Regions from separate parts of the Homo sapiens genome. Here region 2 is linked to region 1. A link means that fine-mapping ties the variant in region 1 to the expression of a gene that starts in the linked region. Tissue or cell type: cerebellum. Region 1 holds a variant in brackets; the other region holds the start of a gene. All regions are shown on one strand. Distances are from middle to middle.

What was found. PIP is the estimated chance that this variant, and not a neighbour inherited with it, causes the effect.
Region 2: it holds the start of NOD2, and the variant in region 1 is fine-mapped to the expression of NOD2 in cerebellum (GTEx, PIP 0.98).

What each region holds. Positions count from the first base shown.
Region 1 is chr16:50,377,039-50,385,143 of GRCh38, forward strand. No RefSeq gene overlaps it. Among named protein-coding and RNA genes, the nearest start is that of BRD7, 12 kb to the left of the region's middle. The variant A/C (reference allele first, on the strand shown) is at 4,062.
Region 2 is chr16:50,688,770-50,696,874 of GRCh38, forward strand. It overlaps NOD2 (nucleotide binding oligomerization domain containing 2), which reads left to right and starts at 4,837. Exons shown (of 12, transcript NM_001370466.1): 1 at 4,837-4,893. RefSeq lists a silencer at 4,557-5,066 and enhancers at 5,437-5,486, 5,727-5,806, 7,711-7,760.

The sequences.
Region 1 (8,105 bases):
AACCAACTTTTTTTTGTGTTTGTTTGTTTTTTGTTTTTGTTTTTCCTGTGAAGCTTTTATTTTGGGCAGAGGGCAGGGAGCTCAGTCCTTCCTGGCAGCTGCTTTCTTCATGGCCGCCAGGACGTGGCTCAGCTCCTCTCTCTTCGTCTTGGCATAGATGTGTGTTAAGCAACCTCTTTCTATCTGCCTTCCCTATTCTTCCCAGCCTCCAGTTACTACCCTACTTCCTGCTCTAGCCTACCCTCTACTTCCATGAGATCAACTCCTTTAGCTTCCACATATGAGTGAGGGCAAAGGATTTAGCCTTTAATCCTGCAGTATTTCTCTTTCTGTGCCTGGCTTATTTCACTTAATGTCGTGTCTTCCAGGTCACCCATGTTATTTCAAACAACAGGATTTCCTTCTTTTTTTAAGGCTGAGTAGTATTCCACTGTGTATTTGCTTTATCCATTCGTCTGCTGATGGATATTTAGCTAGATAGGAGGAATACATTTTAGTGTTCTTTGGCACTGTAGGGTGACTATAGTTAATAATAATTTATTGTATATTTCAAATAGCTAGAAAAGAAGATTTTGAATGTTTTCAACACAAAGAAATAATAAATGTGTAAGGTGATGGATGTGCTAATTACTCTGATTTGATCATTACACATTGCATATATGTATCAAAATATCACTCTGTACCCCATAAATATGTATAATTATTATGTATCAATTATAAATAATTTTTAAAAAGTGATTGAAAACCTCCCACACATGCAAATATATAATAAAATTTTATACATTGGAAATGAATAACACATTGACATTTGGGTCTTCATTGATTGTAAAAAGTAAATGTTAAGAACTTTTTTTTTCTTTTTTTTTTTTTTAAGATGGAGTCTCACTCTGTCTCCTAGGCTGGAGTACAGTGGCATGATCTTGGCTCACTGCAACCTCCGCCTCCCAGGTTCAAGTGAGTCTCCTGCCTCAGCCTCCCGAGTAGCTGGGTTTACAGGCATGCACCACCACACCCAGCTAATTCTTGTATTTTCAGTAGCGACAGGGTTTCCCCATGTTGGCCAGGCTGGTCTCGAACTCCTGACCTTAGGTGATCCACCTGCCTTGGCCTCCTGAAGTGCTAGGACTACAGACGTGAGCCACTGTGCCCAGCCAAATGTTAAGAACTTTTAACGTAAAAGATAAAACACATTTGCACTAACAAGCTACTGCTTTTATTTCTCACACATAGGCATTCTGCTTAAAACTTCATTTGAAACAAGAAGCTGCTGAAAATCTTTGAAAACCACTCAGTGATAGGACTTCCAGGGGCCCTTCCACGGCTCTGTAATTCGGTTAGATAAAACATTATAATGATCAGATGTTTTTATTTTTAAAATACACATCTTTTAGCAGACCATAAAGCCACACACAGATTAGTTGAGCTTGTTGTGTGGCTGGATAAAGTCAGCTGGAACTTGATTTAGGGGAAGAACACTGAACTGGAGATCACAAAGCCTGGTTCTCATTCTTGCATTGCTTGGCCTCCATGTGACAGTCAGAAACCCATCCCTAATGAGGTTGAGCTTCAGGTGTGGCTATATCCAGGTGCTCAAATGATGTCCCCAAGATTCAGGCTTTCTCTCTCTCTGGTCTACTTCCTTCTGCCCTGGTCCCATCCTCAGACAGGCTCCATTGGCCTCTAGAAGCTCCCAGATGATATCCTCATAGATCCCAGTCCAGAAAAAAAGGGAATGTGCCTTTCCCCAGTGGCCCATCAAAAGTCACAGGGCTATGTGATTGGACTGGTTTATATCATGTACCCACCTAGAGCCTATGACCATGAAGGGGTGGGATGTGGGTGGAGGGTGGTCAAGGTGGTGGCAGAATTCAGGGACAAGTGAATCCTAGACCATGGGTCTTCTAACCCAGGAGCTTGGGAGGGAGACGAGTGCCACCTAAACCACATGGCCTAAGTAAGTTGGGATCCCTTAGAAAAATTAGGGTACTGTGACCAGAGGATTGGAGAATGGATGCTGTACCCAAAGTAACCAAGCATTAAACAAAACAAAACAAAACAAAACAAAACAAAACAAACACCTGTTTCTAAACTCAGTTTCTCTACCTGCCTTGAGAATGAGCAGGTTGTGAGGGCCCAATGAGAGGAGGAAGTAAATGATGAGCACTGTTACCTGTTACTTGGAGCCCTATTACTGAGGGGAGCCCCGAGCCCAATTACTCAGAGCCCTGTTACTTGGCGCTGACAGGAGCCCCGAGGCACCTTGCTGCTAACAAACATAACACGCTTCACAAAATGTTCACCCTGTCCCCCATGAGACTGGTCACTGATAAAGAACTGGTAGAAAGGTTCTTTCCTACAAATCCAATTCCAGTCGGCTTGGCTGATGCTTGGCCTGCTCCTCAGAGAGGCAAACATGCCCATTTGCTGGGGAAATGCAACCCAGGGGCGTTTTCTCCTCCTCTCTCTACTGTGATCTTGCCTTTCAGAGCCAGTAGGGGTTCAGACTTGGAGTTGCTGACATTGTCAGCCCCGGAAGAAAAGTTGTGAGGCTCAGCCAGATCTATTTATGCCAGATTTTACAACATCATTGAATTATTTGCACTCAGAACTGCTGATGTTCTGTTGTTATTGTTGTTTAAGTCTACACATAGGCATTTTGGAAGGCACCAATGAATGGGCATCTCTTTATAGTTTCTGAGGCAGAAAAAGGAAAAACTTTTTTCTCCCCTTTATTTAGGAGAAAAGTGAGTGGAGTGGGGAATACAGCCTTCTCCTTCCTGCCTGCCTGTCCCTCTTTCACCTGGGGTAAAATCTGCTTCTGAAAGCCTCCCCAGAGCCCGCTATGAGGAAGGAATAGCCCCTCATCTGTGCACCCTGGCTATTGACTCAGCAAGAGCTGCCATATTTCCTGGCTTCCACTCTGCTCCGCCATAAATCCACTTTCCCCACCACAGCCAGAGTGACTTTGAAATACACAGATTTCCGGGCCAGGGGCAGTGGCTCACACCTGTAATCCCAGCACTTTGGGAGGCCAAGGTAGGAGGACCAGGAGTTTGAGACCAACCTGGGCAAGATAGTGAGAACCCCATCTCTGTTAAAAACAAAACACATGGATTTTTCTGTGGGTGGTGGTACGTTACAAAAATAAAAACAAAAACATAGATTATAGATTGGATTAGGCCACATCATCGTCCTGTTCATAACCCTTTGGGGGGTCTCCCATCTCAGATCAAGCCCAAGCTTTTTTCCTAAGCCTACAAGGCTCAGTGTAACCTGACCTCGTGCTCTTCTCTGACCCCGATTTCTGCCACTGCCTACTTCTACCCACTAATCTCCAGACATAATTTGCCTAATCTTAGTCCCTTGAACATGCCACACTCTTCCTCCATGCAGGCCTTTCACACATGCTATTCCCTTATTCTGGAATGCTGTTCCCACACTCTTCATATGGCTGGCCTCTTCTCATCTCTCACCACCTCAGAAAGGCAACCCTAAACTGCTCCAACAAGTCCCCTTTTAGTTTCTGTCTTTATTTATATATATATTTTGAGATGGAGTTTTGCTTTTGTCGCCCAGGCTGGAGTTCAGGTGCGAGATCTCAGATCACTGCAACCTCCACTTCCTAGTTTCAAGGGATTCTCCTGCCCCAGCCTCCCGAGTAGCTGAGATTACAGGTGCTCACCACCACACCCAGCTAATTTTTTGTGTTTTTGGTAGAGACGGGGTTTCGCCATGTTGGCCAGGCTGGTCTTGAACTCCTGACCTCAGGTTATCCACCTGCCTCGGCCTCCCAGAGTGCTGGGATTACAGGCGTGAGCCACTGCACCCGGACCTCTTTTAGTTTCTCTTATAGCACCCTGTGGTTTTTCTGTTTCTGATAAAACACATCACATTTGCAATTCCGTATTTATTTGTCTATTGTCTGCCTTCCCATAAGACTGAGAACTTCCTGAGGGCAAGAGCTGAGTCTATTCTGTTTTGTTCACTGGCACTTGACATGTACCTAATACATTTTTGTTGCCCAAATGATTAGACGGTTGAAGTCCTCTCTTGTGGAAGGC[A/C]GGACTTCCTTCTGTGTTCTTCCTTCTGGCAGTGACTTATTTCTCCTCCCAGGAGGGGATTGGAGAGAGGAGGTTTTGTCATGCTTCCCTCTGTCCCCCTCAAGGCACTCAACATGGTATTTGGCCCACCATGGGAGCCCAGTGGAGGATGATGAATGAATTCACATTAAATATGTTCTTCCTCTTCCCCCCAACTGCACAGCCAGCTACTCCTGGGAGAGGCATAAATAGTGACCTACAGGCCGGCTGCAGTGGCCCACACCTGTAATCCCAGCACTTTGGGAGGCCTAGGTTGGTGGATTACTGGAGGCCGGGAGTTGGAGATCAGCCTGGCCAACACGGGGAAACTCTGTCTCTACTAAAAATACAAAAATTAGCCAGGCATGGTGGCACATGCCTGTAATCCCAGCTTCTTGGGACGCTGAGGCACAAGAATTGCTTGAACCCTGGAGGTGGGGGTCTCAGTGAGCCAAGATTGTGCCACTGTGCTCCAGTCTGGGCAACAGAGCAAGACCGCCTCAAACAAAAATAAGTGACCTACACCATGAGACTTTGGAGTTGTCAAGCCTTTGCAAAATCTCAAACTCTCTCTTCTACTGATGTGAGTACTGTAGTGCCTGAGAGTCCATTACAACAGAGCAAGGGCAAGGTCTAAGAATCATCTTCCAAGGTCAGCACACCTGGAAGGGGTATTGCCTGAACTGAGCCTGGTAATTTCCTCCTGGGATGGGGAGGGTGGGGAGGGTGGAGAACACAGTGACAGCGCCCCCTGCCCCAGGCTTTCACTTCACCAGATATCCATTAAGCACAGTGATTGTTAGGGTCCACAGGGACTTCAGATACAAACAAGACACAGCCCCTAACCTCAGGAGGCTCAGGGTTTGGTGGAATAGACGCGTGACTTGCCCCCTTTCTGCCGTATGACACTTTGGGCTCGTTACTTGAAAGCCTTGGCTTCCTCATCTGTAAAATGGGGTTATAAATGTACCAATCTCATTGGTGATAATTCATTGAGTTGATGCATAAAAATGCTTAGGACAGGGCCAGGCTCAATAAGGGTGAGTAGTCAGTGTTATTATCTGCCATGCCTCAGGCAAGGTACAGAGTTTCCCCAAGGCTACTTGACCTCTTCCTGTTTACCCTGCCTCCTGGCCAGCTGCCCTCTGGTGGTAACTGTGCAGAGTGGTCGCCTGCCTCTGGCACCTGTCTGATCTGCCCCGGTCCTGCTGACCCCTCCTGTGGGCCTTTTGGTTGTCTGGACTCTTGGTATGTCCCAGGCCTTCCCTTTTTGCTAGGTTTCCAAGGCTGCTCTTCTGCGTCAGCAGGTTTCTCAGGCTTTTCAGACCCAAGTGACCATCTTGGGACATAGGCAGAGAGAAGCCTTGATGTTACTAGTTATTTCTGCCCATTGGGCACCAAATAAACACTTTCTCTAGCAACAGCCTCTTGACTTCCACTTAGAGAGCCTCCTCTCCCCACATGACCTAAGCCTGCCAATGAGAGTGTCACAGCCGCGAGGGCCAGTGAGGATTGGTTCAGGGGTGAGCATGTGACCCAGGCCTGCCAGTGAGAGTATCACAGCTGCCAGGACCAATGATTGGTTCAGAGGTGGGCCTGTGACTGGAATCTGGTTAATGAGAATATCATAGCCCCTGGCTTGGTGATTGGTACAGAGGTGGGCAGGGACTGAGGCTTGGCTTTGGTGGGACCTTTCCATGAAAAGCTTGCTGAGCCAGTGGTATGTCAGTCTGGTGCTTTTGGGGCTTGAGAGGAGGCCCTGCCTGAGAATAAAGCTAATGGTGGAGAAAGCAGAGCCAAGAGCTAGTGGCCTGGTGACAGTAATTGAGTCTCTGGATCCAGCTGAGCCTGAAGTTCATCAACCTCTTACACTTTTCAATCCAAGGGTTGAATAAATTCCCCCTCTGAGTTTTGTGTACTTTGAACTGGATTTCTAGCCCTTGCAACTGAAAGAACATAGGCTGACTTGTGTGTGCATGGACACACACACACACACACACACACACACACACACACACACACACTTCATTCAGTGCCTACTGAGGAGTCCCTCTGCTTAGGGAACTGAGCACTGCCTGTTCCCAGAGCATACAGAGGTGACCAGGACAGTTCCTGACCTCAGGAGTCCCAGGAATGGGGCAACAAGTCCGACTTCTTGCTCAGATACTTTTAAGTGTGGCGGGCCCATTCTCACCAGGGCCAGCTACGTCATTTGTAGGGCTGAGTGCAAAATGAACACGTGGGGTCCTTTGTTCAAAATTATTAAGAATTTCAAGGTAGGAACTCAGAGCATTAATCCAAGTGTGAACCCCTATGTTCATGAGGGAACATATACATGAGGAAACTATCACACAAACCATTATCAAATAGGTCTAATTTAAGGTATTCTGGGGGACAAAGGCTTGGCTCCTTCAAAATAGAATCCTTGGTAGGGACCCAGGTTTGAGTAGTGCTCACCATGGCAGTAGCCTTGAGGGGAGCTGGGAATGATTGGGTGACCATACGATCTGCCTGTGGTCACCAAGGAAGGCTGTTTTGCCTGGAAGGGAAGAAAGCTCCTGGGAACAGAAATCTCAAGACCAGGCATATGGGTGGGTGGGAGCAGAGGGAGGTGGAGTTGGTTGGGATCCTTGTTTTGAAGTGGGAGGCAAACAAAGATGGGCGAGGTCCATGTTTGGTAAAAAGATGGACCAGGAGTCACAAAAGTGTCAGGGAGACCTGGTGGTCTCCTGGTTCTGCAACCAGGCAGACCTGGGGTTGAGTTCCACTTTGGCTGTTTAGTAGCTTAGCGACCTTGGGAAAGTCACTTGACCTCTCTGAGTGCAGTTTCACGGAATGGAAAATAGCAGTGATATTACCCCCAGCAGGTTTGTAGTGAGTACCTAATGGGATAGTGTCTATAAAAAAATCCTTTATAGGCTGGGCAGGAAATCGAGACCATCCTGGCTAACATGGTGAAACCCCGTCTCTACTAAAAATACAAAAAATTAGCTGGGCATGTTGGCATGCACCTGTAGTCCCAGCTACTCGGGAGGCTGAGGCAGAGAATTGCTTGAACCTGGGAGGCAAAGGTTGCAGTGAGTCGAGATCGCGCCACTGCACTCCAGCCTGGGCGACAGAGTGAGACTCCATCTCAAGAAAGAAAAAAAAAATCCTTTATAAGCTATGAAATATGACCAAAATCCATCAGTTCTAAAACTCATCTTTTTTACATTTCATATCTCTAAAATCGGGATAAATCTTATTATCCAAGGTGTGACATATTTAATTGGCAACTTTTCTTTTTCCTTGGTGGCTCATGAAATAATTTGTGTGTGTCACGATCAGTGGCATCTCATTAACAGATCTGCTGAAATGATCGTTGAAACAGCAGTCGTTGGCTTTTCCATCTCCACTGCCACCCTTGCCTGTGTTTCCAGAGAACAGAAATTAGACCTTTTCATCTGTGTCCTCTCGGAGCCTGACATAATGTCTGGCACAGGTCAGTGCTCAATTAATGCTTTAAACCAAAGTTTAAAGTGACTAGCTAAAGGGTTTTGCTGGAAGGGCTTTTGACAAGCTAAACCCAACCCTCTCACCTTCTGATTAATTGCAACTTGGGGCTGAGGCGTGGTCATTTGTGTGTCTTGTTTTCCTGGCCACCCAACTGATGCCTCTTTGTCTTATTTCTGAGAGTTGCTATGGTTCATGCTCTTCGTTTCTATAAGGTACACAGGGAACACACTTACCCCCTCATTCTTCCTGCCCCCTCCACCACTCTTAAGACTGACTCAATTAGCGTGTCACATCCCTCTGGCCTCAGTGATTGGTCCAGGGATGAACATATGACCCAATCAGAACCTTTGAGATACTATGAGATTTTTTTTTGCAGGATGTAGCAGCCCCTGACTGGGCCCCATGCATAGCCTCTTGGTATTTGCCGTTTCCATGCACACGGGCTGAACTTCCAATTGCCCGTCTTTGGGTCTATGCTTGAGTACTCTCTCAGGCTGCTGGGGCCCACTCTGTCCATGTGTGCTGCAGGGG
Region 2 (8,105 bases), 310 kb after region 1:
ATCATTTTTCCCCTTTGAATTATCTTGGCATCCTTGTTAAAAAACAACCTACTCTTTAAATTTAGCCTTATATTCTTTCTACACAAAGCATTTGGCAGCCCAACTGTTTTTCATTGAGATATAATTCACATACCATAAAACTCACCCTTTTAAGGTGTGTAATTCACTGGTTTTTAGTCCATTCACAAGGTTGTGTAACCATCACCATGATCTAATTCCGGAATATTTTCATCATGCAAAAACAAAACAAAACAAAACAAAACAAAAACCAAACCTCATGCCCACTAGCAGTCACTCCTCATTCCTCCCTCCTCTCAGTTCCTGGCAACCAACAAATCTACTTTCTGTCTTCATGGGTTTGCCTATTCCGGACATTGCATGTAAACGGACTTACACAATAGATGTCATTTTGTGACTGGCTTCTTTCACTTAGCATAATGTTTTCAAGGTTCATTTATGTTGTAGCATTTATCAGTACTTTGTTTTTTTCACAGCTGAATAATATTCCATTGCACAGATAGATCACATTTTCTTTATCCATTCATCAGCTGAGGGACATTTAGTTTGCTTCCACTTTTTCCTCTTATGAATAATGTTGCTATGAACATTTGTGTACAAGCATTTGTGTGCATATATGCTTCAATTCTGTTGAGTATACCTAGGAGTAGAATTGCTGGATCATATGGTAACACCATGTTTAACTTTATGAAGAACCCACAAACTATTTTCCACAGTGGCTTCACCACTTTACGCTCTAACCACCAATGTATGAGGCTTCCAGTTTCTCCACATTATTTCCAGCACTTGTTTTCTGTCCTTTGGACTAAGGGCACCTTTGTGAGTGTAAAGTGGTATCTTATGGTGGCTTTGATTCACATTTCCCTAACAATTAATGATGTTGAGCGTCTTTTCATGTGCTTGTTGGCTACTTACATACGTTCTCTGAACATTTTCAAATCCTTTGCTCATTTAAAAAGTTGTTTGTTATTGAGTTTCAGGAGTCCTTTATATATTCTGGATATGAGTCGTGACTATTTTCTCCCATTCCGTTGGTTGTCTTTTTACTTTCTTGATCATGTCTTTCAAAGCACAAAAGCTTGGAATTTTGATAAAGTCCAACTTATCTATTTTTTTCTTTGGTTGTTTGTGCTTTAGGTGTCAAATCTGAGAAATCATTGCTTCATCCAAGGTCACAAAGATTTTCACCTATGTTTTCTTCTAAGATTTTTATATTTTAAATCTTGCATTTGGGACTTTGATCCATTTTGGGTTAATTTTTGTATAAGGCCTGAAGGAGGAATCCAAATTCAGTTCTTTTGCATGTGGACATCTAGTTTTCCCAGCACCATTTGTTAAAAAGACCACTTTTTTCCCCCTGAATCATCTTGGCATCCTCGTTCAAAAAAGAGTCTACTTTATAAATTTAGCCTTATATATTCTAGGCAGCTTTCTATCTGATAAACATACTTATAGCATCTTTAAAAAATAAATATCTATTGAAATATGACAAGCATAAAGGAAAATATAAATATCATGTGTTTAACTTGGTCAGTTTCACAATGTATTTGCATCAATGCAACCACTATTCAGAGTAAAAATAGGAGATTACTGGCACCCCAGAAGTCCCCTTCACTCCTCCCCTAGTCACTACCTCCAACTTTCTCCCCAGTGGTAGCCTCTATCTTGGCTCCTACCTGTAATGCAGTTTTGCCTGCTTTTGAACTTTATAGAAAGGATACCATTCCGTATGCACGCTCTTGCACTCAGCCTGTTTCACCCAACATTATGTCTGTGAGGCTGCAGTTCTCGTGGGGGTACAGTGATTCATTTATTTTCATTGGTTATTAGAACCACAGCATTATTTTTAGTATATTCACTCAACAAAGATTTATTGCATGCCAGGTCCTGTTCTAGGCCTTGGGAGAAGGCAAGGGACAAAGCAAAAATTCCCTGTTCCCTTGGAGCTCATGCTGTCTTGGGTGAGAGACCAACAACAAAGACAATAAATAAGTAGAATACATAATGTGTTGTGTGCAGATAAGCGCTATGGAGAAAAATACAAAATAAAGCAGGAGAGAAGGGATTGGAGGGTGTTGCAGCTGTACACCGAATAGTTAGGGAAGGCCTTGCCGAGAAAGTCATATGGAAGCAAAGACCCAAAGGAGAGGAAGGAGGGAGCCAGGTAGATTTCTAAAGAAAGAGCATTCCAGGCACAGCAAAGGCAAAGGCCTGAGTGTAACTGCAGGTTTGGCATATTTGAGGAACAGCCAGGAGGCCAGTGTAGCTGGAGCAGAGTGAGTAAGATGAGAGTGTAAGAGGTGGGCAGAGAGGGTGCCAGAGGCCAAACAGCAATTGTAAGGACCTTGGCTTTTACTTTGGGATGGGAGCCATCAACAGAAGAGTTTCAGCAGAGGAGTGATAGAATTTGACTTAAAACAGCAACAACGACAACAACAGCAAAACCAACAGACTCACTCTGGCTGCTGGATTGAAGAAGGGCTGTAGATGGAGGCGTGGAGAATGGCCAGGAACTCCTGCTATCACCCAGGTGAGAGATGATGGAGATGTGGACCCAGGTGGTAATGGTGCATATGGCAAAAATGGGCTGCAGCTTGGAAATATTTGAAGGCCAAGCTGAAAAATTTGCTCCCAGATTGGATAGTGGGGCTGAGAGAAGATGGGTCGGGTTAAGTGTTCTAGGTTCAGATGTTCTGTCAGTTTTCTTAATTAATTTTCTGTTACTGGGCATTAGGGAGGTTTCTAGCTTCTCACTGCTGTAGGCAAGATGGTGGTGAACATCCTTGTAGATGGTTCTGTGCGCTGCCCAGAATGAATTTTCTAGGGTAGATTCAGTCCTTCTAATGCAGCATTTTCCAACCTTGGCTGACTGTGCACCACCTGCACAGGTATTTACTTGAAAGCGGTATGGGGTAGTGGTTAGAGCATTCATCTGTGCCAGAGGCCTGGGGCAAATCCCCATCTCTGGTGCCAGAGGAAAGGGGGCATCTCGAGGCTGGGGAGGCCCCTGGCAGGAGTGAGAAGTCCTGAGGAGCCCGGGCTTCAGGTCTCAGAGGGGGCCACTGTTTTTTGAGTACCTTCCTCTCTGTGGGACTCAGTTTCCCCATCTTCACCATGCCAGTGAGTGGGTGGGTGTAAGTGAGCGAGTCTGCCTGGAGGATCCTACTGCTGCTCTCTGCACCTCTTAGGGGAATCTCCTGCCTCCTCCTTCTCCCTTGGTGGGCGTGAGATCAAAGTTCAAATGTGTACCTCAGTTTCTGCATCTATAAGTTAGAGGCAATAATAGTCAATACCCTAGAGGTGGAAGTAACTGAGTTACTGTCTGTAAAGACTAGCACATGGTAAACACTTTCTAGATGCCAGTTATTTTCGTTATTTTTAAAAATTGACTTCACATTTTTTAAAACAACCAAATATGAGTTTCAAAAGGAACATTTACATTAACATGTTAAATGGAAAACCGGTGTCATTTGCTCCGGAGAACAGAAGAATGTAAAATAAAATATATTTAATGGAAACAAAAACAATGCTATTAAAGCTAATTAGATAGTTTCAGAGCCAAGTAATCTAGGCAGTGCTAGAAAGGTACTCAAACCCTATTAGTACTAAACTGAGAAATAAACTCCATTCAACATAAACGGAAAAACTGAAAGGAAAATGAAAAAAAAGAACCTTAAATGACCAGTCCACTCTTACCTAACATGTAACCTGTCACACTCTGGAAAAGTTTTCCTAGTTTTGGCTGTGTGTGCGTGTGTGTGTGTGTGTGTGTTGGGAAGTGAGGCGTGTGTTGGGAAGCGATGTGTGTGTTGGGAAGCGATGTGTGTGTGTTGGGAAGTGGGGTGTGTGTATATTGGGAAGCATGTTTGTGTGTGTTGGGAAGCGGTGTGTGTGTTGGGAAGTGGTGTGTGTGGGGTGTGGTGTGTGTGTGTTGGGAAGTGGTGTGTGTGTGGGGTGTGTGTATGTGCACGTGTGTGTTGGGAAGCAGTGTGTGTGGGGTGTGTGTGTGTTGGGAAAGCAGGGAGTGTAGTGTGTGTTTGTGTTGGAAAGTGGTGTGTGTGTGGGGTGTGTGTGTGTGTGCACGTGTGTGTTGGGAAGCGGTGTGTGTGGGGTGTATGTGTTGGGAAAGCAGGGTGTGTGTGTGTTGGGAAGTGGTGTGTGTGTGAGTGTTGGGAAGCAGGGTGTGTGTGTTGGAAGTAGGGGGTGTATGTGTATCGGGAAGCATGTTTGTGGTGGGGGGAAGCAGGGCGTGTGTGTGTGTGTATGTGAGTGTTGGGAAGCAAGGTATGTGTGTTGGGGGAAGCGAGGGCTGTGTGTGTATTGGGAAGCATGTTTGTGTGTGGGGGGAAGCGAGGGCTGTGTGTGTGTATTGGGAAACATGTTTGCGTGTGGGGGGGAAGCAGGGCGTGTGTGTGTGTTGCGAAGCGGTGTGTGTGTGGTGTGTGTGTGTGCGCGTGTGTGCTGGGAAGCGGTGTGTGTGGTGTGTGGTGTGTGTGTGTGTGTATGTGTATGTGTTGGGAAGCGGGTTGTTCCGAGGACTCCCCGATTCCCTCCTGGTTGAAACGTGGCCCAGAAAGAGAGGCACACTGGCTAGGGCACACAGCCAGGGCCGTCCAGCCCCGCAGGAAGCCCCGGTCCTGCCCTGTCCCAGGTAAGCCTGGCCAGCCCTGGAGCCGGCGCTGCGGGGCTGCGGGGCTGCGGGGCTGCGGGGCCACGGGACAGGAGCGGGTGCTGCGGTCCCGGCAGAGCAGGGGCGGGGTCCGGGCGGGGGCGGAGCCGAGCGCCCGCGCACCCGGAGCCGCAGCCCGAGCCGGAGCCGGAGCCGGGAGTCGTGGCCCGGAGTGGGCCTTGGAGTCGGCGCGCAGGCGGCTCGCGGTGAGTGCTGTGCCCAGCGCCTGGGGGTGGGCTGGGGGGAGACTGTGGGCGCCGAGGGTCCCACCCCCGGGACTTGAACACTTGGCTTCTGAGCCGTCCTGGCCGCAGGGCTTGGGCAAGGGTTGCCTCGGTTTCTCCTGGGGGAGTCCCAGAATGTAGATGGGAAGTGAGACGGAAAGGGGGCATCTCGAGGTTGGGGAGGCCCCTGGGCCACTCTTTTGATTTCCTTCCTCTCTGTGGGACTCAGTTTCCCCAGCTTCACCATGCCAGTGAGTGGGTGGGTATAAGTGAGAGAGTCTGCCTGGAGGATCCTGCTGCTGCTCTCTGTACCTCTTATGGGAATCTCCTGCCTCCTCCTTCTCCCTTGTTGGGTGTGAGATCTAAGTTCAAATCCATCCCTTCCCAGACAGCCCACACCAGGACCTGCGAGGCCACATCCCCCAGCTGTTTGCTCTCCTATGCTTCTCAGGTTGATGGAGCAGCCATCTGGTCCTGCTTTCATTCCAACAAACTGAAAAGCCCTCCACCCCAATCCCCCTGGGGAGGACCTCCTGAAGCTGCATGAGGGCTGGGGGCTGGACCCCTGCTTCTGAGTTTGCTCTTTCTGAGCCTCTCCTGCCATGGCCTTGGTTTCCCCATGGGCTGTGACCTAGCCTCCTCCAGGGTCCTTGTTCTACAGAGGGGAAACACCTGCCCTGTCACCCTCCCCTGACCCCTTAGTGAAAAAGACCAGAGTGACATCCCCACCACCTGTACTTGCCTGTCCCGATCACTCAGCCATGGGGCTGCTGGGGCCCCTGAGTTTGTTGGCTGCTCAAGGCCCCTTTGCCTCGCTGCACCCTGGGATCTGAGGCTGGAAGCATCCTCATCCAGCCCACCTCCCTCCTACCCAGTGCAGAGCCCCTCTGTGACACATGCCCAGTGGTGGGGAGCTTATTACTGATGAGGTGGCTTTTTAGTGCCTTGCAGCTCTTGTTTCCTTTAGCTAAAATCTGTGGCTTACAGATTCTACACCTTGGTTCCATGTCTGTCTCCCGGAGCCATGCAGAGCAAGTCAGTTCTTTCATTCTTTCCAGCAGTCATCATTCATGCACTGGATGAGACACGAGACAGAGCAGTAGGAAAATCAGACAAAACCCCCTGCCCTCATGGAGTGCACACTCTAGAAAGGAATGGACAGCAATGAAATAAGTAAATACATGGCGTAGCAGGTGGCGGGAAGTACTACGAGTAAAACAAAGCTGGGAAGCAGGATGGGGTGCTGGGGCTGGGTATTGCATTGTATATAGCACAACCAGGGAAGGCTTCCCCAAGACCACGATAGCTGGGCAAAGTCATAAGGAATTGAGGGGTGAGCCACATGAGTATCTGGGGGGCTGGGAGGCTTTGGTTTTCACTCTGAGCATGATGGGAGCACGGGTTTGGAACAGAGGAGTCACCTGCTTTGACTTGGGGTCTGGCAGGCCCATCTAGCTGTGGGGTGGAGAATGGATCATGGGGGGGGTGGGGTAAGGGCAGAAGGAGAGCCCGTTGAGCGGATCATTGCTGTCATTCTCGGGAGAGACCATGGTGTCTTGCCCATGGCCCAGAGGTGGTTAAAAAAAAGAAAACCAGACATTCAGATTTGGGATATATTTCAAAGGCCGTGTCGATAGGGTTTGGGGTGCAAGAGAAAGGTAGAGTCAAAGATGATTCTGAGTGTTTGGCTCGAGCTTCTGGAGGTTTGAAGCTGCCATGAACTGAAATGGGAGTTGCTTAGCGGAGAGATCAAGAGTTTGGTTTTGTGCTTGTGGAGTTTGAGCTGCCCATTAGGCATCAATGATGAGTAAGCAGTTGGGAAAAGTTAAGGGCGGAGGTTGGAGTTGAAAATAAAACTTTGGGCATCATCACCATATAACTGGTATTTAAAGCCACAAGAGCAGGTGGGCTCATCTAGGGATGGAGTGATATGGAGAAGAGAAGGGGTCTAACCATTGAGTGCTGGGGCCCCCAGTGTTAGGAACCAGCCAAGAAGACAGAAAGAGTGAAAATCAGAGAGTTGGGGTGTCCTGGAGGAAATGAAGAAAATGCCCCAAAGAGGAAGGAGGGAACAAATATGACCAATGCCCCTGGCAGAGCAAGCAGGCTGAGGGCTGAGGATTGAGCAATGGGAGGTCACTGGTGACAGTTTCACTGGAGCTGGATGGGGAACTAGAGGGAATGGGAGGGGATGGGAGGACTTGGGGACAGCAGTACAGGCAACAGACAAGGGGGCCTGCTGTAAAGGGAGCAGATAAATGGGATTGGAGCCAAATGAAGAAGGGGAGTGTCAAGAGAGTGCTTTACTTTTACAATGGAGAATTAGAGTGCATTGTGCACTGGTGGGGGGATTTGATCTCTTAGGGAGAGAACAGTGTTAGGGAGGGAGAATGCAGGATAGCTGGGGGAGGGTGGGGGGCTTGGCCCCAGCAGAGACTCAGGACACTTGGGAAGTTGAGCTTCCCTGGGCTTCCCCTCCTCTCCTGTCTGCAAGGGGTCAGTGGGCTGAGATTTCAGCACTTAAGCAAAGCATTTGCTCTTGGCCCCAGAGAAACCGGGCTGGCTGTGGTCTCAGGAAGGAAGGAGGTGTCCAGGCTCAGGCCTGGGCCTGGGTTTCAGGGAGGGCCCACGTGGGTCGCCCCTTGACCCTCTCTTTCAGCAAGGAAGTGATCCTTTCTCTACATGGGCCTCACCTTGGGGAGGACAATGGTGTCTTTGAAGTTGTAGTAACTGAAGTAGAGATCAAAAGGCAATGCAGATAGACTGACAGATTTCGCCTGAAGAGGGGAAGCCCGACCAGGTAATAAAGGAGTAAGAGGAAGGATGTTAAGGACAATTTTAGGAAACAGATAATGAGTGAATATTTTTTCTCTCTCTTTCCCAATTTAAACTGAAGCAGGAGAAACTGAAGCTAGACATAATGATTAACTTCCCAAGCTGGTGAGCTTCCTGAGCTGGTTAGTGAGAACAGCACTAAGGCCAGGTTCTCCTCCCCAGATGTTTAAGATGAGACAGGACAATGCCTGCTCAGAGACAGGGCCTGGCTGAATTGGCCCTCAGGATTCTCTCTGCTCTGAGGTTTCTGGAAGAAGGCCAGGGCAGAGGTGTGGTGATGTAGCTGCTGGGAGGACAGAGCTCCGAGTCACGTGGCTTGGGCGGGCCTCCCCTTCCTGGTGTCCACAGAAGCCCAACGT